3 linked regions of the Homo sapiens genome follow. The protein of the gene in region 2 purifies or fractionates together with the protein of the main gene of each other region. This does not show direct contact. Each region holds a gene or a part of one and is shown on either strand. Other genes may lie near its edges.

Evidence for each region.
Region 1: the proteins of ATG7 (region 2) and FOXO1 purify together in Homo sapiens (affinity purification with western blotting; 4 studies listed by BioGRID). This does not show direct contact.
Region 3: the proteins of ATG7 (region 2) and PRKCD purify together in Homo sapiens (affinity purification with western blotting; 2 studies listed by BioGRID). This does not show direct contact.

Annotation. Positions count from the first base shown.
Region 1 is NC_000013.11:40,663,639-40,671,443, forward strand, and holds the start of FOXO1 (forkhead box protein O1), read right to left. Parts: upstream 3,004-7,805; 5' UTR 2,575-3,003; coding exon 1,945-2,574; intron 1-1,944. UniProt on the Homo sapiens protein: Transcription factor that is the main target of insulin signaling and regulates metabolic homeostasis in response to oxidative stress.
Region 2 is NC_000003.12:11,268,386-11,275,413, reverse strand, and holds the start of ATG7 (ubiquitin-like modifier-activating enzyme ATG7), read right to left. Parts: upstream 3,018-7,028; 5' UTR 2,984-3,017; exon of another isoform or gene 2,705-2,983; intron 1,201-2,704; exon of another isoform or gene 1-1,200. UniProt on the Homo sapiens protein: E1-like activating enzyme involved in the 2 ubiquitin-like systems required for cytoplasm to vacuole transport (Cvt) and autophagy.
Region 3 is NC_000003.12:53,156,344-53,164,211, reverse strand, and holds the start of PRKCD (protein kinase C delta type), read right to left. Parts: upstream 3,004-7,868; 5' UTR 2,784-3,003; intron 2,706-2,783; exon of another isoform or gene 2,637-2,705; intron 1,731-2,636; exon of another isoform or gene 1-1,730.

The sequences.
Region 1 (7,805 bases), on a different chromosome or scaffold from region 2:
ATTTCGATTTTGTGACTTAATAGAATATATGCTGAACTTAACGGTAAGAAGGCACTTTACTTTTTTGAAACACTTGGTAAAATTGCATGTAATGCCTGGTAATGAAGCGATAAGTGATACCTTTACTCTAAAACACACTTTGGAAAAAATAAAATGAATCTTGAATTCCTTCTAAAGGAACTTCAATAAGGTGTGAGTAACTTAACCCTTTTGACACGCATTAACCACAGGGATGACACTGTGTGTAAAATAACCTTGGTGTTAACAACTGCGCAGCAAAGACCAATCTTTATTATGCCGTGGAGTCCAATATGAGAGGCGAAGAAAGGTATGTTTTAAAAAGGTGTTTAGCTCGGCCGGGAACGGTGGCTCACGCCTGTAATCCCAGCACTTTGGGAGGCCGAGGCGGGCCGATCACGAGGTCAGGAGATCCAGAACATCCTGGCCAACATGGTGAAACCCGGTCTCTACTAAAAACACAAAAATTAGCTCGACGTGGTGGCTCGTGCCTGTAATCCCAGCTACTCGGGAGGCTGAGACAGGAGAATCGCTTGAACCAGAGAGTCGGAGGTTGCAGTGAGCCGAGATCGCGCCACGGTACTCCAGCCTGGCGACAGAGCGAGACTCCGTCTCGGAGGAGGGGAGGGAGGTGTTTAGCTCAACTAGACAGCCTTTACAGCAATTCCGCCACCGGTGACAGTGAGAAACTGTCAGCTTGGGGAGGCCGCGCCACGACTGGACCCCGCCCCCGGGAAGCCTCCCCGGAGCCGAGGGCCCCCGGGCCTTCTCCTCGGAGTCGGGAAGTGCCTGCCCCCACGCTAAGTCTCTCCTGGCCACGCTCTGAAAGGCAAAAATGGCAAAAATCCTCCTTCAAGGCACCGCTCCCTCGACGCGCACCGCCACTCCGACTCCCTCAAAACATTGGTCGCAAAGCCCCCCCGCCTGGTCCTCCATGCTCAAGAATAGGGTGGCAAGGCAGGAAAAGACTCACACATCCCAGCCCCCGGCCCCTCAGGGCAGCCTCTGTGTTTCTAACTAAAAGCCTCCTACCAGGGGCAAGACCAAGTTCGGGCGCTTCCCCGCATGGAGAAACGCTGGCCCCACGGCGCCCGGCCCCGACGCGCTGGCCCTTTAAAGGCGCGGGCTTCCTGCGCCCGGGGCCCCTCCCACGCCACCGCCACCGCCACCGCCACCGCCCGCGCCCGCCCCCGCCGAGGGTCACACTTGAACTTTAGCTCGCCCCGCGCGGCCAGGCGCCGGCGCTCCGCAGGCGGTGGCCGCCCCTTCGCACGTGTCGGAGGCACCACCTCGGGCTCGGGACGCCGGGCCCCCGGCACTCGAGGCCACTCCGGAGAAAACCAAAACAAAGCAAAATGCGCACCGCCTCCAGAAACTGCCCGGCAGGCCCTGCACCGTCCCCGGCCGGTCGCGCCCTGCCTGTCCCCTCCACCTGCAGCCCGGTCCCGGGGCAGCGAGGCTCCGGGGCCCCTCGCCGCGCCCTCCCCCGCCGCGCCCGGCGGAAACAGCTCCGCGGCGCGGCCGGAGAGAACCCGCCCTCCCCCCGCGGAGGTCCGGGAGGGAAGGGGCAGCCGAAGCAGTCGGCGCGGGCCGGGGGTTGCCGCTCCCAGCGAACCCCTTTCTCCTTTCACTGGCAAACTTTTCGGCCTCGCTCTGACGTCCACTTCTTGGCGCACTTTCTTTACTTAGTTCCCCAACGAGCCCCTTACCGCGTCCCACGCGAACTCCTGACTGGCGCGCACGCACACCTACTGCCGTCCCCGACCGGACCCGGGCGAGGCCACCGCGACCACCGCTTCTCGCCCGCCCTCCTGGGAACGCGCTGCCCTCCTGCTCCGCACCTTCAGGCCGAGCAAACCTGCACAGCTGCGCCCTCGCCTGACCCACCGCGCCCCCAAGGTCCGGCCGCGCGCCGAGTCCACTCACCTTCCAGCCCGCCGAGCTGTTGCTGTCACCCTTATCCTTGAAGTAGGGCACGCTCTTGACCATCCACTCGTAGATCTGCGACAGCGTGAGCCGCTTCTCCGCCGAGCTCTCGATGGCCTTGGTGATGAGGTCGGCGTAGGACAGGTTGCCCCACGCGTTGCGGCGGGACGAGCTGCTCTTGCGCGGCTGCCCCGCGAGCGGCCCAGCGGCGGCGGGGGGCACCGGCGGGTGCTGCGACAGCGGCCCGGGCGGCGGGGGCTGCGGTGGCGCTGGGTGCAGGCAGCCCGCCTCCGGGCCCTGGAAGTCCCCGCACAGCCCCCCGGTGGCGGCCGCGGCGGCCGCCGCCGCCACCGCCGCCGCCACGGAGCCGGGCGCCTGCGGGAAGTCCTCGCTCTCCTCCAGCAAGCTCAGGTTGCTCATGAAGTCGGCGCTGACAGCGGCAGCCGAGGCCGAGGGCAGGCCCGCCGCGGCGTCGGGGTTGGCAGCCGCGCTGCCCGACGGCGCCGGGCTGGAGGTGGCCGAGTTGGACTGGCTAAACTCCGGCCTGGGCAGCGGCCAGGTGCACGAGCGCGGCCGGGGCAGCGGCTCGAAGTCCGGGTCGATCTCCACCACCTGAGGCGCCTCGGCCATGGTGACCCCCGCCCCTCCCCCAGCCGCAGGAGAGCCAAGAGGGGGAGAACGCAGCACTGGGGGCGGACGGGGAGGGGGCGCGAAGGGACGGTCCGAGATTTGGGGGAACGAAGCCGGTGCGGCGAGCGGACGGAAACTGGGAGGAAGGCGCGGCGGAGTGGAAGCGCGAGCCCAGAACTTAACTTCGCGGGGCCATCCACATCGAGGCTCCTCGGGGTCCGCCGCACGGACTGGACGGCCGGCCAGAGCCGCCGGGCCGGGGCAGAGCCTGCGCCGCGCTCCAGCTGACAGGGCCGCGGACGGAAGGACGGACGGACGCCGCGGGCCGCTTGCTCTCCCCAGCGGCGCGCCCGCTGCGCTGCTGCCTGTTGAATGTGGCGGCTGCGGCAGCGGCTGCTGCGACTACCAGGCCGCCCGACTTACGGGATCTGCCGCCGCCCCCCGCCCGCGGCGGCGCGCGCGCCGGCCCGCCCCTGACCGACAGCCCGCGCGGCCAATGGGCATGCGGCACCGCCGCCCGGGCAGCCAGTGGGCGCCGGGCTGGGTGGGGCCCGGTTTTCCACGGGGAGGCGGCGGTGGGCTGGTGGGGGGTAGTGGGGTGTTTTTCTCTTTCACACACTCACCTCCTTTTTTTTTTTTTGGATCTCTATTATTTTCTGGTAATTCTCGAGTGTTTCTGTGATTCTCTCGCCTTCTCAGTGTTTTGATTGCTAGGAAGCAAACCAGCGTGGAGGCGCCGGCGACACTTTGTTTACTACGGAGCAGCAGAGCCGAGTACTCGGGAAGCCCGGGTGGGAGGAGGCGCTCGCTGCTCCCTGACCTCCGCTGCGGGCCGAGCCCGGCGGGCTGGCAGGGCAGGGGGCCGAGGGCCGGGGGCGCGGGGTGGGCGGGCGGAGGCGGCCGCGAGGAATTCTACTCAATCGCTCCCTCCTGGCTCCACCCACGATGTCTTTGCTGAACGACGTGGGGAATCGGTGGGTTTTGTTTTGGTTTAATGTTTTCTTTCGCTGCGATCTGTCAAGTCCTCCGGCCCCCTCGCGAGCGGCACACGCCCCCCACCCCCGGCGCCGCGGCTCCTGCAGTCGAGTCCGCGCCGAGGGACCCTTCTCCGTGCCCACCGGTCCGCACCCCCGGGCTCAGCCTGTGCCATTCGGTCTAGCCAGAGGCGCGTCACCCAGCCGGCAGCCCCCAGCCGGATTCACTGTATTCTTGACCTTTTTTAAAATGCTAGAAATGAGGAACAGGGGCTCCGGCGCGGGGAGGAGATTATCTGGCCTCCCTGAACACACGAATCCAAAGGCACCCGCGACCGCATGCCCTCCGTGGGAACCTCTTCCCCTGGGCGGGAATCTCCCGCTCCGTCCACTAAGTCCAGGGCCGGCAGCGAAGGGCTCAGGAGCGCAGTTAGAGAGAACCAGGTCATTTTATTACTTATCCCTAATTAAATTTAGCTGTTTGTTACTTCTTTTTTATTTGCAACGGAAGTGATCGGGTGTTAAGTAAAAACGCAAGGGGGGCGGGAGATAGGACCAAAGCCTTGGGGCGCAGCCTGCCCCACCCCCAAATTCCTTGAGGCTACTTGCTGTGTGTGTCAGTCAACCCCCCACCCACACCCCACCTTTCCTCATCTGGGCTGCAGGTCCAGGACATCCTGTCAAGGATCAGTGGGGCCAAAGGTGGGAAGATAATGGCCCTTGTGTCTCAAGCAGAAGAAACAGTTTTCCAGTTTTGTTTTGTTATGCTTTTGCTTTTTTAGGAAGAATATGGAAGGCATTTCCTTTTAGAAAGATGGGACCACTTAGGATGGAAGATGGACAGTAGGGTTTTAAATATCTTGTCCAAAAGGACAGCTTCCAACTCTTGTTTTTTAATCCCTTTCTTTCTTACAAGTAATTCTGCAATGGAAAAAGTGGCATCTAGAGAAAATTAGTCAGTTGGACAAGAGGTTGTTGAAAAAATAAAAGAGAAAAGAGGGGAAAAAAGGAAAAATTAGGCCTCTTACAAAAGTTAAAAAGATTGAGAGAGATTATCTTTCTTCTTTTATATTCTCACTATCGTCTCTCTAGTCCGGGCTCCTGTTTCTTCATAATCTATTTATCACAACAGCTTCTTGCTGATACTAGGCATGGGTGGGGTGGGGAGCGTGAGCCGGATGGATTGGGGACGGGCGGGGACTGGTTCCCACCCTGGTCTTGTGGTCTCTTCACGTTTACTATCAAATTTGGACAGTCTGGGCCTCCTCTGACAGCCGCTAGGGGACCTCAGTAACTCAGATGATGAGCTCAAAGGCAGGCCCCCAAAGTACAGCTGTTGCTTCCCCCCACCTTTCCAATTACACTCTGCAGAAGCAGCCCCCGATCCAGACAGCCGCACCCTAAAAATAGGCGGTGCCCTACTGGATCATTCTTGGCAAAGGAAGCCAGCTTCAAATTTGGCCTTGCCTTCATTTCTATTCCGGTTTTTCAGGGCGTCAGAGAATATTTATTTGGTTAAAGGAGTCTTCCTACAGACTTTCCCCAAATCCTTGAAATCTTTGAGGCTCTCCTGCCCAATTGTTTCTTCAAATGTCATAGTTTACTTTTATTTGGTCTTTCTTTAAAAAAATTGACGAGGCAGGCACAGAGAACCTATAACACCAATGTCCCTGACACATAGGTCCAAAAAATTAAAAATATATATTGAAGGGTTTTTACAGCTAACCACCACACTGTTGTATCTAAATATCAATTTACTGAACCCCAGGATGTTGGTGAATATTTCACTTGTTTCCAGTCTTTAGCTATCATAGACTATTCTGTAAGAAATAACCTTGCAGGGAGGCCGAGGCGGGCGGATCATGAGGTCAGGAGATAGAGACCATCCTGGCTAACACGGTGAAACCCGTCTCTACTAAAAATACAAAAAATTAGCCGGGCGTGGTGGCGGTCGCCTGTAGTCCCAGCTACTCAGGAGGCTGAGGCAGGAGAATGGCGTGAACCCGGGAAGCGGAGCCAAGATCGCCCCACTGCACTCCAGCCTGAGCAACAGAGCGAGACTCCGTCTCAAAAGAAAAAAAAAAAAGAAATAACCTTGCATAACTTTAATTTCATATCTGTACAAGTATATATATAGGAGCAATTTCCAGAAATGGGAGTCACTGGGTCAGCAGGTATACCCATTCGTAGTTTTGAAAGGCACAGCCAAATTGTGCTCCACAAGGGTTATATCAAGCTAAACTGTCTTTTCCATTAGACCCACAGAACGTTAAACTTGAAAGTAAACTCGGAGATCACCTTGGTGACCCCCTTTAACTTAGAAAAAGAGAGGTGCAGAGATGCTGATTTGCCCCAGCGCACATAATAAAAGTGGTGATGCCAGGGCTGTAGCTCTAATTTTTTGCTTTCCCATTAGTAACCTTCTCAAAACACAGATGGAAAATTATAAATATCCTGTAATCCCACTATAGCAATAACCATTATAACTTCGTAGTGTATTTCCTTCCAGTCAACCCGCAGATCTTAGTAATCATAGTTAGGTGAACTCCACTGAACCAAATAAAGGTTTGAATTAAAAGAACAAATAGGCCGGGCACAGTGGCTCATGCCTGTAACTCCAACAGCTTGGGAGGCCGAGGCAGGTGGATCACCTGGGGTCAGGAGTTCCAGACCAGCCTGGCCAACATGGTGAAACCCCATCTCTACTAAAAATACAAAAATTAGCTGGGCGTGGTAGCAGGTGCCTGTAATCCCAGCTACTCAGGAGGCTGAGGCAGAAGAATCCCTTGTACCCCGGAGGTGGAGGTTTCAGTGAGTCGAGATCACACCACTGCTCCAGCCTAGGCGACAGAATGAGACTGTATCTCAAAAAAATTTAAAAATTAAAAAAAAATAAAATAAAATAAAAGATCAAGAAAACAGACATAAAACAATGATAGTGGTAATAAGATAATGAAAGAAGAGATTACAAAAGAAGTTTTTCTGTTTTTTTTTTTTGTTTTTTTTTTAGTCAAAAATGTAAATGTTGCCATCTCTGAAGGGTGACATAGTATTTAGGTCATCCCTGGTTCTGCTTAAGGGAAAAAGTTCTTTTCTCCTTCCTTGTGTTTTGTGGTTGCAGCTTGCTTTGAAGGTATTTTCTACTGATTATCACTTAGTTGCTGCATGTGTCTGAACTGGGAAGAAATAGGGAAGAAAAATGTCTCATGTCAAGTAAGGACAATTAAAATGAAAAAGGAAATTTATCCTTACAAAGTCCATCTCACAAAACTATGTGATGTTCTTTTCTGTGCCTGGTTTTCAGGGTAACTATTGCCTCATCCTTAACAGGAAGACTGAGGGATGGTTCCCTTTGATCAATGCCCAGGCAGAAATTTCTACATTTACCCCTCACCAACACATGATAGATCTCGGGTTTAAATTTAAATTTTTACTTGTCAAAATAGATAATTTAAGTTCCATTTAATGAGTAAGTGAAAAACTTGGATGCTGATTTTTCAGTCAGGGCACTTCACTTCGTATTTCACATTCCCTTTCCCCAACAACTGTCCGTTTCCAAAACTTTGTCTGAATTATTAGGAGGTACTGCTGTCAACCTGAAACAGCCTTTCTTCACTTAGCCCATAGAAAGTAATAATCTGAAAAAAATATATATAGCCTCAGGTCTTTAAACCAATGTCCTGAAGGCTGGCATATTAACTGGTAGCTGTAGTAAGATTAGAAGTAACCATTCGTTTCTCTTAAGGGATAATTTCCTTGGGGTTTTGTCACTAATTCCACAAATATCTACAGAGCACCTCCTACATATATGTCAGGTGCTGTGCATCTTAGAGTCCATTGTTTTGATGCTAAATTCCTTGAGCTCCAAAATGGTTTATTTTCCCTGATACGATATTTGCTATCAGAGTTAAGAACGCTGTTCTTTTCTAATCAGCAATGCATAGTGACAATATTTATTTGGAGGAATTACACAAAAATGTTTTTGATAGGTAAAAGAAATGCTAAGGCTGGAAAAATTGAAATATAGTCACCATTTTGGAGGAAAATAATGATATGAAGTGGAAAAGATTTAAAAATGCACCATCCACAGGCACTGGGAGTATGAGTTCCGACCACTAAGCCTCATGGTTGGGATGATCTTATTACAAATGGACAAAAGACGGAGACTACCTCTGGTTATCTGTCTACTAACCTGTAACAGAAGGGAAGCAGTGAACCACTTCTTTTGTCAATTCTGTTGTGAAGGGCCAGTGTTTG
Region 2 (7,028 bases):
TCGTGCCACTGCACTCCAGCCTGGGCGACAGAGTGAGACTCCATCTCAAAAAAAAAGAAAAAAAAAAAAAGAGGAGAGGAAGACATTAGCGAACGTCATTTCCATGGGTAGAAGTGGACGACAGAGGCAAACTGAATTCCAAATAAAATCAGAGGTCAGGGTTAATCTATTAGAGACACTAGTCAAAGAATTTTGTTACTGCTCAATTCCACACAGCAAATTCATTTCTGCCCTCCCGTCATCAGGATCCTGATTCTTGTCCCCTTCTTCTGTTTCATCCTATCAGTTACCAAGTCCAGCAAATTCCACCTCCTTAATCTCTCAACTCCTCCCACTCCTCTCCATCTCCACTGTCACTGCCTTCATCCAGATCTTCATCCTGTCACCTGGATCACTGCAACTATACCCAACTGGTCCCCTGCTTGTCTTTTTCTGTCCAGTGTAATCACCACATTGCTGCCTGGGTAATTTAAAACAGATGAGAGGATGTCGCATCTGTTTTAAAATCTTCAGTGTCCTGCTCTCCACCCCCGCCCCCACATTTTAGAGTCCAAACTTCTGGGCCTGGCAATATTAATGACTACTGTTTATTGAGTATTTATCATCTACCAGTGTCAAGTGAGTAACATATCACCTCGTACAGTTTTTATTTCCCCTTCTTAGAGATGAGGAAACTGAAGCTTAGAAAGAAGTGACTTGCCCAGGGTCACAAAACTAGTTCAGTGGCAATGGGAATATTGGTACGCAGCTATCTTGGATCCCAAAGTCTATGTGCGGGTAACATGCTATTGTCCACAGGGCCCTTCACGATGTGGCTAGTGCTTACCTTTCCAGTCACCTCTCATCCTACACCTCCACACTGGCACTCCAGTGAACCACAAGCAGGCCATGCATTCTCACCTCTAGCCCTTTGCTCATCTCACTTCGAACCACTCTTCACCTGTCAGATCTCGTTCGTCCTTCAGGTCTTGGCTAAAGCAGCACCTCCTCACTGAAACCTTCTCTGATGAGTCAGCCTGACTTATGCGTACCCTAAGTCCTCCTCTACCAAACCTCCGCAATAGCTTCATGCCATACCGTTGCTATCTCCTTGGCTTAAAAAAAAAGTAAACTCTTTGAGGACAGGGATGTGTATCTTACTCATTTTTGTATTCCCAGCTTGCAGCGCAGTGCCAGACACACAGCTGAAGCTCAATAAATGTTTATTCTCTATAATGAGATGCTGGCTGGGAACGAAAAACGGAACCTGTGGTTGAGTAATGGAAAGTCCAGTACTCAGCTCTTAAAGGATTTCAAAATCATGTCACATGAGGGCAGGAAGGAGTTGGCCAAGATAAATGGAAGAGGAAGGGGAGATGTTCGAAGCAGCAGAAGCAAAGGGCTATAGGTGACACACACCTGCAAGCAGCTTAACAAGACTGGAGCAGCGTTGGGGGATGGGAAAGCAGTTTAGCAACATGAGCCATTCCAAGACTGGACTTTTCTTTATTCAAGTGTTAGGTCACTTCCTCAGGGAAGCCATCCCTGACTAGCTAGCTTTTATGCTTCCCCCCAATTACTGTCCATCCCATGACCCTGTACGTTTCAGAATCGGAAACACCTACCAACCCTTACTGACAATGCCGCCACCGCCACCACCACCACTATTATTAGAAGGTGCCATGAAACAGGGTTCTTTTTCTTCTTATTTTACTGATAGATCACCAGTGCCCACAATAATGCCAGGCACATAACAGGCAAATATTTGTTTTATTCATTCATCCAACAAATATTTATTGAGCATATATAATATGCTAGGCATTGCTCTATATGCTGGGGATATAACAAAACATGACAAAATTTGCTGTCACTGTTAAGTTTACTATGAGCAAATACATTAAATATGCTTAGCCTAGAGAAGAAAAGGTGAGAAGAGGAAGACAAACTAGCAGCTTTCAATGATGTATAGGGCAATTAAATGCAGGGGTGATTCCAAGAGCCTGAAGGAGGAACAGTGAGCTAAGATTACCGAGTAGCTGCTTTCAGCTCAACCTAAGAGTCAGAACTGGGGGAGGACCAAACAGGAGCAACCAGAAGTAGAAAGCTTTCTGTCACTGAAGAAATCTGGCCAGTGGGCAGAGGTGTCAGAGAAAAAAATCTAAGTAGTCAATGAAAAAGGGAGTCTGGGATCCAGAGGTCCCAAACTGACAGCCACAGATATGACTGGTTACAGTTGAACAGGGTTTTGTAAAAACTGAGTTGCCAATGTTTTTAAACGCCAGAATTACTTGCCAATTTTTAAAAAATGGCATCAGTCGCCAGTGTTTAAAAATCAGGAAACTGCACGCACGTGCACACACACACGGTTTGGCTTGTACTTCTCCAACATCATGTACGTTAGTACTGTACTTATAAAATTAGAAGTTTGACTCTATTTCTGACAAATGTTCTAACACCTATATTTACCTTACCGGATTGATTCTTATTGTGCATTAGTTTCTAACCCTGTAACCAAGGAATCGAGAATCTTCTTTCTCAGAAAGTAAACTTATTTAACCTCCTCACTTAAACAAATGGCGGATTATCATTCCCATTTTGCAGATGGAAAAGCAGCTTAGATGGGGAAGGAACGTGCCAGAGACAGCAAATCCAGACACAGCCAGGCTGGGAATCCAAATGTCCCATCTCCCGTGTTCCAACACTGAAGATTCTGAGCACTGCCTACCAAGAGGACAGGAGGGGCTGACTTAGGAAATCAGCACGAGCTTCCAAGTCAGAAGACCCCGGACTGAACCAGTCTGAGGGGACGCGGCTACAGACGAAGGGCGCCAGCCGGAATCAGTGAGTCCCTGGAGGAGGAAGGACCACCCAGAAACTGGCAGAGGAGGATCCTGAGACTTGCTGTGACCCTCGCCCTCCCTGGCGAGCTCGCCCCTTGACTCCAGGCCTCCAAAACCGGCCCAGCAAGACCCCACTACACCCTCGCCCGCCGCGGCTCACTTACCGCCGCTCAACTTCCGGCAACCACAGCTCTCTCTGAGGCGCGCGCCCCGATGACGCAACGCGGTCCTGCCCGCGCTTGCCACTGGGAAGCGGCGCGCGTGCGCAAAGGAGCAGAGGCATGCCGGGGAAATGCGCCCCTAGCACCGAGCTAAGTGGGAGGAACTTGAGTCGTGAGGAGGGCGGGGCATCAGGGGGCGGTGACGCCCCCGGGGGAAGCGATGGAGAGCGTCTCCCTTACCAGATGTCGGAATGTCTACATTCCCTTCAGGCTTTTAAGAAAGTGCCCACGTTCTCTCTTTTGATTTCAGAGGATGACAGGAATGATCACCATGGTCATTCTCCAGGAGAGGCGGCATCAAACGCAGCACAGGGGCCATCAGGGTGGCAGGTGTGGAGAGCCAGGAGATGAGAATTTTAGTAGGAAAAGGCCAGTGAACGTCGACAGTGACCAACCTGCCTTTTCTAAACCAGCCATCATTCTCACAGCTCCTCACTGTCAGTGAGATAAAGTTATTCCCTCTCAATACTTGGTTAGATACTCTGCGCGTGCAAAGCACTGGACAGGTGTTGAAGATACAGCAGTGATTATGACAAGTTTCTCTGTCTGGCCTGTAAGGCCTTTCACAAATTAACTCTGATATACCACTCTAGACTCATAACAACAAGAGCGATGACTGCTATTAATTAACTAGCCACCATGTTTTCAGGGTTTTACATCTCTAATCCTCACAAGAGTCCTGAAACATATCCCCAAGTTATATATGAAAGAACAGAATCTAAGAAAAGTTAGGTGGCTTGCTGAAAGTTAAAGGGCTTTTGGGCCAGGAACGTAATCTGAAGTTTGTTTGATTCTGGCAAATAAGAAAACAAATCCAGACTAATAAGGATACTTATTAGAAAGGATTACTGCAGGCCCGGCGCGGTGGCTCACGCCTGTAATCACAGCACTTTGGGAGGCCGAGGCGGGCGGATCACGAGGTCAGGAGATCGAGACCATCCCGGCTAAAACGGTGAAACCCCGTCTCTACTAAAAATACAAAAAAATTAGCCGGGCGTGGTGGCGGGCGCCTGTAGTCCCAGCTACTTGGGAGGCTGAGGCAGGAGAATGGCGTGAACCCGGGAGGCGGAGCTTGCAGTGAGCCGAGATCCCACCACTGCACTCCAGCCTGGGCGACAGAGCGAGACTCCGTCTCAAAAAAAAAAAAAAAGAAAGGATTACTGCAAGAAGTGAGAGAGGTGGGAGAGAAGGAACCGTGCAATAGCAGAGGGAGACTATTGCAATAGTGAGATCACTCTGACCAAAACATCCGCAGATGTTTCAATGGTTAGGGAAAAAGAGGGTTCCCCCACCCCCCACCCTCCCCAAAGGCAGGTAAACAAGGCTGGAAACAACCGAATATGGGAAGTGGGATGAAGGGGTGGCTTGATCAGATAGTAGATTAGAGAATGTTTTATCTTGAGGCCAACCTATTCTCAGTAGGGGTTGTGTGTGTCAGTCTCTGAGCCCAAGCTAAGCCATCATATCCCCAGTGACCTGCACGTATACATCCAGATGGCTTGCAGCAACTGAAGATCCGCAGAAGTGAAAATAGCCTTAACTGATGACATTCCACCATTGTGATTTGTTTCTGCCCCACCCTAACTGATCAATGTACTTTGTAATCTCCCCCACCCTTAAGAAGGTTCTTTTATAGTCTCCCCCACCCTTAAGAAGTTTCTTTGTAATTCTCACCACCCTTGAGAATGTACTTTGTGAGATCCACCCCCTACCCCCAAAACATTGCTTTTAACTCCACCGCCTATCCCAAAACCTATAAGAACCAATGATAATCCCACCACCCTTTGCTGACTCTCTTTTTGGACTCAGCCCACCTGCACCCAGGTGAAATAAACAGCCTTGTTGCTCACACAAAGCCTGTTTGGTAGTCTCTTCACACGGACACATGAGACAGTATGCTAGTTCAAGCTGAGAGTAGGTTAAAGTAAGGAGCCTGGGGAAAGGAAAGAAGCTTAACCCAAGTTTGGTTAATAAGCATTTTTTCCAACTGGTCAATGGAGACAAGCAGCTCTGTAATCATTTATGAGGCAAAGAATGGGAATTCAGAAGGACTGTGTTTGACCTTGCCACAGTAAACAAGGGAGGCAACCAGGAGTCATTTAAGTGACATGAGAATGGGTATTTCTTTGTAGTGAACATTTTCTGAAGCACAAAAAGGTTAAGAAAGATTTCTCTTTTTTGCTTTATCTTTTTTTTTTTTTTTTTTTGAGACGGGGTCTCCCTCTGTTACCCAGGATAGAGTACAGTGGAGTGATCATAGCTCACTGCAGACTCAACCTCCTGAGCTCCAGGGATCCTCCCACCTCAGCCTCCTGAGTAGCTGGGACTACAGGTGCATGCCATCATGCCGGGCTAATTTTCTCATTTTTTGTAGAGACTGGGTCTTGCTATGTTGCCAGGGCTGGTCTTGAACTACTGGACTCAAGTGATCCTCCCACCTTCACCTCACAAAGTGCTGGGAATACAAGTGTGAGCCACCTTGCCCAGCAAGGATTTCTTTTTCCTTTTTTTTTTTTTTTTTGAGACGGAGTCTCGCTCTGTCACCCAGGCTGGAGTGCAGTGGCACAATCTTGGCTCACTGCAAGCTCCGCCTCCCAGGTCCATGACATTCTCCTGCCTCAGCCTCCCAAGTAGCTGGGACTATAGGCGCCCACCACCTCGCCCGGCTAATTTTTTGTATTTTTAGTAGAGACAGGGTTTCACCATGTTAGCCAGGATGGACTCGATCTCCTGACCTCATGATCCACCCGCCTCAGCCTCCCAAAGTGCTGAGATTACAGGTGTGAGCCACCACGCCCAGCCTTTTTTTTTTATTTATTTATTTTTTTGAGATGGAGTTTCACTCTTGTTGCCCAAGCTGGAGTGCAATGGCGCAATCTTGGCTCACTGCAACCTCCACCGCCCGGGTTCAAGCGATTCTTCTGCCTCAGCCTCCCAAGTAGCTGGGATTACAGGTGCATGCCACCACACCCGGCTAATTTTTTGTATTTTTAGTAGAAACGGAGTTTTACCATGTTAGCCCGCCTGATCTCAAACTCCTGACCTCAGGTGATCTGCTCACCTCGGCTTCCCAAAGCGCTGCGATTACAGGCGTGAGCCACTGCACCTGGCCAAGAAGGATTTCTTAACCTTTACTGTCAGAGGCATTTGAACCAGAATGACTCCATCTTGAATAGGGGCTGAGTAAAGTAAGGCTGAGACCTATTGGGCTGCATTCCCAGGAGGTTGGGCATTCTTACTCACAGGATAAAACTGGAGATCAGGGTATGACAGAGGTCACAAAGACCTTGCTGATAAAGGTTGTGCTAAAGAAACGTGCCAAAACCCACCAAAACCAAAATGGTGACGAGAGTGACCTCTGGTCATCCTCATTGCTTATTATACGCTAATTATAATGCATTAGCATGCTAAAAGACACTCCCACCATTGCCATGACCTTTTACAGATGCCAAGGCAATGTCAGAAAGTTGCCTTATGCAGTCTGAAAAGGGGAGGAACCCTCAGTCCCAGGAATTGCCCACCCCTTTCCCAGAAAACTCATGAATAATCCACCCCTTGTTTAGCATATAATCAAGAAGTAACTATTAGCATAATCAATTGAGCAGCCCATGCCACCACACACTGCCTATGGAGTAGCCATTCTTTTACTCCCTTTTTTTCTTTTTTCTTTTTTTTTTTTTTTGAGATGGAGTCTCACTCTGTTGCCCAGGCTGGAATGCAATGGCGCATCTCTGCTCACTGCAACCTCTGCCTCCTGGTTTCAAGCAATTCTCCTGCCTCAGCCTTCCTAGAATATGGTGAGCAATTCTCCTGCCTCAGCCTCCCTAGAAGCTGGGATTACAAGAACACACCACCATGCCTGGCTAATTTTTGTATTTTTTTTTTAATACAAATGGGGTTTCTTTCTTTTTTTTTTTTTTTTCCAAGACAGAGTCTTGCTCTGTCACTGGGCTGGAGTGCAGTGGCGTGATCTCGGCTCACTGCAACC
Region 3 (7,868 bases), about 42 Mb from region 2:
GCCTGGAGATATCCTGGGAGGAAGAAATGGCAAAGGTAGCAAGGTACTCTGTGTCTCCTGGCTGAAAGGCCTAAGCATTTTCTCTGAAGGCCAGCTCAAGCCTCTAAGAAAGATTCTGCTCCCCAGATGTGAACCCCTCCCCCAGCTGGAGACCCCCATCACCATTCCCTGGGGGCAGAGGCATCCTTGGCTTTATCTTTTTGTCTGTACTTTAAATTATTTCTAATTTTAATCTAAACTGTGCCAGCTAAATGGTGTCAGCGCCCTGCAGTCACAGCTCTGAATCATCCCCCACCCCTGTCTCCCCCATCGCTACTACTGACACTAAGGTCTGGTGAGGGAGGGGCTGTCATGCAGGCTGAACAGGGCTGGGTACTGGGGGCTCTGTCTGGGCATCCCCCCTCCCTCAAGCTGCTTGGTCAAGGAGATGGGAAGGGGCAACAGACAGGCAGGAAATTGGGTTGGATACTGTCTGGGCTTTCTTTAGCCCCAGCTCCCAGGAGAATGGGAACCGTATAGCTGGGGGTGGTGACAACAAAAGACTTCACATGTGCTGTGTTCTCACTATGGGCCAAGATTGTGTTAAAGGACCTTTAACACAGGAACTTTTGTCCTCACTCTCTCCATTCTGCAGATAAGGACACTCAGCCTTGAGAGGCCTAGCTTGGGTCTCTTGCTCTTAACAGGCACAAGCAAGTATTGGAGCCCAAATAATTCTTGGGTACAGAGCCCGAGGTCTTGGTCACAACACTACAAACCCCAAGACTTGCCCTCTAGCCCTCTCCATGTGCACACCCACATCCTCATGGTCTCCCACACACTCACACACACACCCCCACACTGGGCTCTCACCTTCCCTCCCAGCACTGTCACCACACACCTTGTCACACCCCCTCCTGCCGCTAACACCCACGCCCAGGCACTCTCGGTTCCCCACAATCACAGTCACTCCCCAAGCATACACCGGCAGTTTCATAGACTGTGTCCCACCAGTCACACACTCCTACCGTGGCCACACACTCCCAGGCTTACCCCAGCACTGTCCCATCGCATAGCCCTCACACCACCCATCAGCCAGGTACAGCTGCCCAGACACCACCACACCTCTCTGTCACACACACACGCACACACACAACCACACATATCACACATGCACCATACAGCCTCCCTCTGCTGGCCTGCTCACCAAGCCCCAGCTCACTCCACAGCAGGAACGAGGAAACCCCAGGGATCAGTCCCCTCCCTTAGTGACCAGGTGGGCCTGGTCACAGAAACTCAGTGGCAGAGGGAGAGCCACACGTGAGTACACACACATACACACACTTATACAGATACACTCACACATGAGACTGGTGGGTAGGCACCCAACACCAGGGGCTTCCACAATTAACAGATCTAACGTACTCATGGCCAGTTGGTCACCATGATATACCCAGTGTGCAACACCGAAACCTCCAGACACACAGGGACACACACACTAGCAGGCAAGGACACACACACACACACACACACACACGAGTCTGGTGACAACAAACACACCAAGAATGGTACACACAGTTGCAAAAGACACACACAGAGCCTCAGGACACAAACAGACATACACACATACACACAAGCAAGTCACACATGCGAAAAAGGACACACATGCACAGGCAAGTCCCACAGTGACAGACAGCACAGAAGCTGACACAGACACACAACATACCCACACACCCAGATACCAGTGACTTAGCACAAGGAGACAGCTTCCACGCATACAGGGTAGGCGTCAGAGAAGGGGACCCCCCGCCCACTCACAGCAGATCCTTCTGACCAGGTTTAAGGCGGGGCTCGGTGGGGCTCTCCCCTGCCCCAAGAGAGAGGGAACTGGGGAAGTGGGAGCAGTTCCGATGGTGCTCTCCTTCTGCCGCTCCACCACCAGCCAGGAGGACCCCCCCCCCCGACCTCCTCCCCTCATCTGGTGGAGCCCCCACAACGGGAGTGGCATCTGGGTTGGGGGCGAGTACAGACCGTATCGGGCAGGGGCCACCCTGGGAGGGGTCTCAGAGGGGCGGAGGGGTGGGGTGGGAAGGGGGATGGTGGAGACTGGAGCCACGCCCAGCCCAGAGACGGATGAAGGGACCGAGAAAGACTCTTGAGACCGAAAGAAGAGACAGCGAGGAGGAGGCGCCGCGCGGGTCGGGCCTCCAGGGACCCAGGGGCGGGAGGCGAGGCCCGGCGGGCGGCCTGGCCTGGGCCCCGCGGTAGAGCGGAGAGGCGGCTGGACTGGCAGGGGGCGGCGAGCGTGGGCCGGGGGCGCGGCTCCGGGAGGACGGGATCGAGGGGGCGGCGGGCGGGGGTAGGGGTGTGGGTGGGGGTGGGGCGATGGAGCACGCGGAGGGCAAGGGACGGACGGATCGGGTGGCGAGGGACAGAAGGATCGGGTCTCGGAGAGGCGCGCAGGGGGAGAACACAGAGTGGGTGGCGACAGACGGACGGACACAGGGCCCGGGAGAGAGTCGGGAGGGACGGACGGGCCCCTCGGAGGAGCGGGAGACACACGGGCGGGTGGAGGGGCCGGGAGCGGGCAGACAGAAGGACCTCAGCCCCCACTGTCTAGCGGAGGGACACACAGACGGACAGGGGGACGGAGTCACCGGCAGGTCTCGGCGCGGCGGGACTTTCGCTGACCGCGGCTCAGTTTCTCAGTTTCGGAAACGGGAACTGGGGCGGGAAGGGGGAAGGAAGGGCGCCGCGCCCTCGGGGTAGCCCCGATCCCGCGCCCGGACCCGGCCCTCACTTACCTCCCGTTGCAGGGGCAGGCGCCAAGGGTCGCGGCGGCAGCGGCGGGGGCGCCGCTCCCCGGCGCGCGCGGACGGGGTTCGGCGCGGCGCTGACTGGGATGGGCCAAGCGGCCAGTGAGGTGTGGCCCGGGCCTCCGCGCGGCGGGCGGGCGCCGGGGGTCGCTCGGGAGATGTGGGCTACAGCCGCCTCGGGCTCCGGCGCCGCGGCACACGGAAGTGCGAGGGGGCGGGGCCGAGCGACCTCACCCAGGTGCCGCCGGCCCCGCCCCCGCCAGGCCCCGCCCCCGCCAGGCCTCGCCCTGCCAGGCCTCGCCCCGCCAGCTGCAATCGGGGACAGCGTCCCTCCGCCTCTGCCTGCGCGGGACACCGAGTCTCCCGGTCCCTCTGCCCTGCCTGGCCCTCTTCGCATCCTCCCGCCATTAGCGCGCAGCCAGCCCTCAGAAGGGGCCCATTTTACAGAGGAGGACGCTGAGGCCCGGTGGGGAGGCTCCCTCCGCCCGCTGGGGCCTGGGAGGGGCCGGCGGGGGTTCCCCCGCTCCCCACACCCACGCCCGGGACTCCCCACTGGCCAGCTGGCCCGCCTCTCCTGGCCCCACTCCTGCTCTTCCTGTTGGCTGGAGCTCGGACGCGGCCGGGCGCGGTGCCCGCCGCCAAGCCCGCTGTCCCGGCTCTGCCCCAAAGACTGAGCTGGTTAGACTCCAGGGTCGGAGGTTCTCGCTGGTCGGGCGCTGCACTGCTCCTCAGGCGGTTCTGGGAACTGCCCCTACTCGGACTGGCAGTTGCCCCTACCCCGATTGGCAGTCTTCTGCTTTCCTGCCCCCACCTTTGAGACCTCTCTATTGCTCCTGGCAGGCGCCTGAGCCTCCTTTCCAGACATGGAACTTGGTTGTCAGCCATAACTCCTTCATTCATTCATTCACTCATTCATCTATTCACCGAGTGTCCCCTAGGCTCAAAGTCTAGGGACCAGTTGGGGTTCTAGGGAGTCCATTCCCCTGTCCCCAGAGCTCAGAAAGCCAAGACATTAGCCTTATACTCATCCAAAGAAATGTCACTTCCCAGGAGACAAAAAAGAGGGTTCCAGGTCCTGGGGAACCACCTAGAAGGGATAGAGAAAGTCTAGACAGCTCTTCCCAGCTGAGACACAAGGGATGGAAGTGGGGGACAATCCCTGAGGTGGCCTGAGCTGAGAAAGGGGCTTGTGACAGAGACAGGCCATTGGACTTTGGTCTTCTCACAGAGCAATGAGAAGGTGGTGAAAGCTATTACAACCAGGCAGGATGACAGGCTCAAGGGGGCTCCTGCGGGATAGATGGGGCAGAGGGACAGCAGGGCAGAGGAGAGGCTGGATGGGGGACAGAAGGGCTGCCACGTTGTTCAGGTGGGAGGACCCTGGTTGAGATTGCGGAAGATGGATGGGGAGAAAAGGCCAGACCAGGTGGGTTCAAGGACTATCCTTTGGGAAAGACTTTCTCTTCACACCCAGGCCTTGAGCATGCTGTTCTCTGGGCCTGAATGCCATTTCCCACCCCACCCCCAAACCTCTACCTGCCCTGGTTGTGTCCATTCAAATGTCCCTCCTCCCTGATGCCCAGTTGTAATGCACGGCACTTCCCTGAGTGAAGGACCATATTCATTAGCATGTTCTGTGTCCTGATCCCATCCCACCCCACCCATCATGCCCCATGGCTTCCCTGGGGTTGGACTGGAGGAAAGGGTAAACAAGGTGAGCCTCAAGTGACCTTTGCCCACTTGGGATCGGGTTTCCTTCTGGCTCCTCCTTCAGGTCCACAGTAAGCCAACCCAGTCTCTCCCTCAACATAAACAATAGGCCCACCCTGTGCCAGGGACTGCAGCCAGAGGGAGGACTGACCCTTGAGGAGCTCCAGGTCCAGCCACCAGACCTTTGTTCCCACTCCGTGTGGTTCACCATGGAAGAAGGAAATGAATAATCATGGCTATCGCTGATAGGGGCTACCCAGCACCAGGCTGTGTGCTGGGTGCTGGATGTGGGCAGTCTGAACAGTTCTCAAGAGGTGAGGGCTGCTGTTAGTGCCAGTTTTGGTGATGAGCAAACTGAGGCTCAGAGAAAGGAGAAGCGACTTGCCCCAGAGTACACAGCTAGTCAGTGGCAGACGCAGATTCAGACCGAGGTCTGTCTGGCTCCAAAGCCCATAGTTTACATCAGGGATCTCAATTTCAGCACCACTGACCTTTGGGACAGATGATTCTTTGCTGTGGGGGCTGCCCTGTGCACTGTAAGGATGTTGAGCAGCATCCCTGGCCTCTGCCTAGTGGATGCCAATAGTACCTCCCTGCTTTAACTTGTGACAGACAAAAATGTCTCCAAACATTGCCAAATGTCTGCTGCAGGGCAAAATTACCCCTTGTTGAGAATCACTGCTTTGACATATACTGGTGTTACAGGAACAAGATTTACATTAGACAACAGGAAGCACTTTCCTGATCCTCAGGATATGCAGACTTGTGAGCTCAGGGGCTGCAAGCATACACTGGCTTCAGCCAATCTTTCTCCTCTAGAGAAAGGGGAAGTGCGATGTACTCAGAGAGGGTCAGAGGGGCTAAGGCTGTGCTAGCTATGCTGTGGCGAGGGCAGAGAAGGGATGAAGGTGGGCTTCCCTCCAGGCCTTAGGTCCAAGGGTTCCAGGGAGAATAGGTTTGCATGAGGTCCAGAGAATCCAGGCCAAGCTTGACTAGAACCACCCTGCATCTTGGAGCTGCTTCTGGGTGCCACACTGGTGGGCCAGGGCAGGGTCCAGATGAGCTGGTATCTGTGTCCCCATAATCTGCCTTGCATCAACAAGAAGGGCCTGCTGAAGCCTGAGAGCAAACCTTGGCTGTGTCACATGCCAACTGTATGACCCTGAGTAGGTGACCATGCCTCTCCCAGCTTCAGAGTTCTCACCTATGAAAAGGGCTGATGACAGACTCATGTCAGGAGTTGAATGAGGTGGTAAGAGTTAAATGAGATGATATATACAGAGCCTCGGCCAGGCTAGACACATTGCCCAGGGTTACAGCCTGGTCATGTGCCAAGTCACAGGCTGTCAGCCTTGAAAGAGGCTTCAATGGCCTCTCCTGACATGGGGCGTAAATCCCTGAGCAGGGCTAGACTCATAGCAGCTGCCTAGAGGTGATACTTTCCTCCTCCTCCAGGTTTGCAGCCAAGGAGATGGGCTAGGGTGGTGCCAGGCAGCTTCCAGACTCCCACCCACAGCATCCACCCAGGGCTGTTCCTTCTGTGGGCCTCCTGGAGGATTTATCCAGAGGAGAAGCAACTTGACCCCTGCCACCTCTGCCTCCTCCAAAGGCCATCAACCCTGGGAGGCCTCCAGACTCCTCCACTCCTGAAGTCCAAGACTCGGCCAAGCAACCTGGAAAAGGCCTCCCTCTGTCCCTGAGGCCCACACAGCTGAAGGCAAATGGGGTCCCTCACTTGATCCCTGCCAAGAGTTGGTCCTTGTCCTGGCATTTCTGCTTTTTGCACCTTCTCTCTGTTTCTGTCTCTCTGTGTCACCATCCTTGTCCCTGAAGCTTTGGTTGCCACGGCAATCCCCATCACACCCAGAGCACTGGCCTGGCCAAGAGAGAGTGGGCTTGTGTTTCTGGAGCAGGAGACACAGTCAACAGCGACAGTGCACCTGGGCAATTGCTGGGGGCAGCAGAGCCTGGGAGGTTCCCACTGGGGACAGTGTAGTAGGAAGGACACTTGGGACATGCCCATGCCTCAGGCCACCAAGACTGTCATCGACAGGAGTGTCAGCCTCAGGTACTAGGTTAAGGACAAGCAAGGACAGGCTGAGGGGGACAGTGGCCTTGTGGGTAGTGCTGCACAGCAGGGAAGTGCCAGCCCAGGGGCTGGTTCGCATCCTGGCTCTGCCCTGCACTGCAACTTAAATGTGCCTCAGCTTCCTCATCTGTGGAGTGGTGTTTGGTTAAGATCGACCTCCTGAGGCTGAGAGGATGGAAGAGTTCAAGTTCATCCCATGTTGGTGTTACCTGCCAGGCAGAGAGTTGGTGAGGCTGGGCTAATTGCCTCCATGTTCCTTCCTCAACACATTTGTGTTTGGGTGAAACCTGAGACATACTTGGGGGTAGACAAGGGGAAGGTGTGTCCTGGGAGTGCAGAACACAGGGCTTTCCTGTGGCTCTCCCAGGGGTGTGTACCCTGGACTGTCCCTTCTCTGCACTGACCATGGCACAGCCCCTGCCAGCCTGAGTCCCCTTCCCTGGCTCCTCTGCCCCTGCCCCCAAACATGTGTGTAGGTGGGGAGAAGGGGCACTGGTGTTGGGACAGTCATCAGCAAGAGCTATCCCCTCGCACGGAGTCCAGGGGACCTCCCAGCTCTCCTCCACCGCCCCCATCCCCGGCACCCATTTAGCTCTAATCTACGGGGTCCCTACTGGGAGGCTCATGGGGCTTAGCAGGGCAGGGAGGGCTATAAGCCTCACCTGCCTTTCCTTTCGCTCCCTGGCCTGAGGGTGCCTCAGCTCCCCGCTCCCACCTCTCAGCCCCTCATCCCCCACATCCTCAGAGGACAGCTCACCAAACCCAGCTTGGCCCATGGGAAACAGTGTAGGGGGTGGCCCTGAGCTGAAAGGCGGCTGCTCGAGGTTGGCAGGCTGGGAAGGACTGACTGCAGGCACAGCAGGGTCCCCCGCGCCGTGCACACACCTCCATACCCACCGCACAACCACGTACACGCCAGTCGGCGCGACCCCCGTGCACCAGCACAAAGTCCCCCGGGCCCCACCCTCCCGCCCCGCCCCGCCCCGCCCCGCCTCAGGGAAGCCTTTCCGAGCCGGGGGCGCAGACGCCCGCCCAGCCGCGTGACGCAAACCCCGCTATAAAACACCCGGCTCTATTCCCGGGTCCGGCAGCCACCTGGCTCCAGGCGCCGGGAGGCCCTTTCGCCTCCTCACCCTCTTTGTTCTCCAGGAAAGTCAGGAAGACCTGAGCTCGCCCATTCCTTGGATGGAGCAACTGAGGTCCTGGGTGTGAGGGTCGTCCAGGGCACTGCAGCCGGCCTCCTAGTGGGAACCTCTGAGAAGACCTTGAGGACT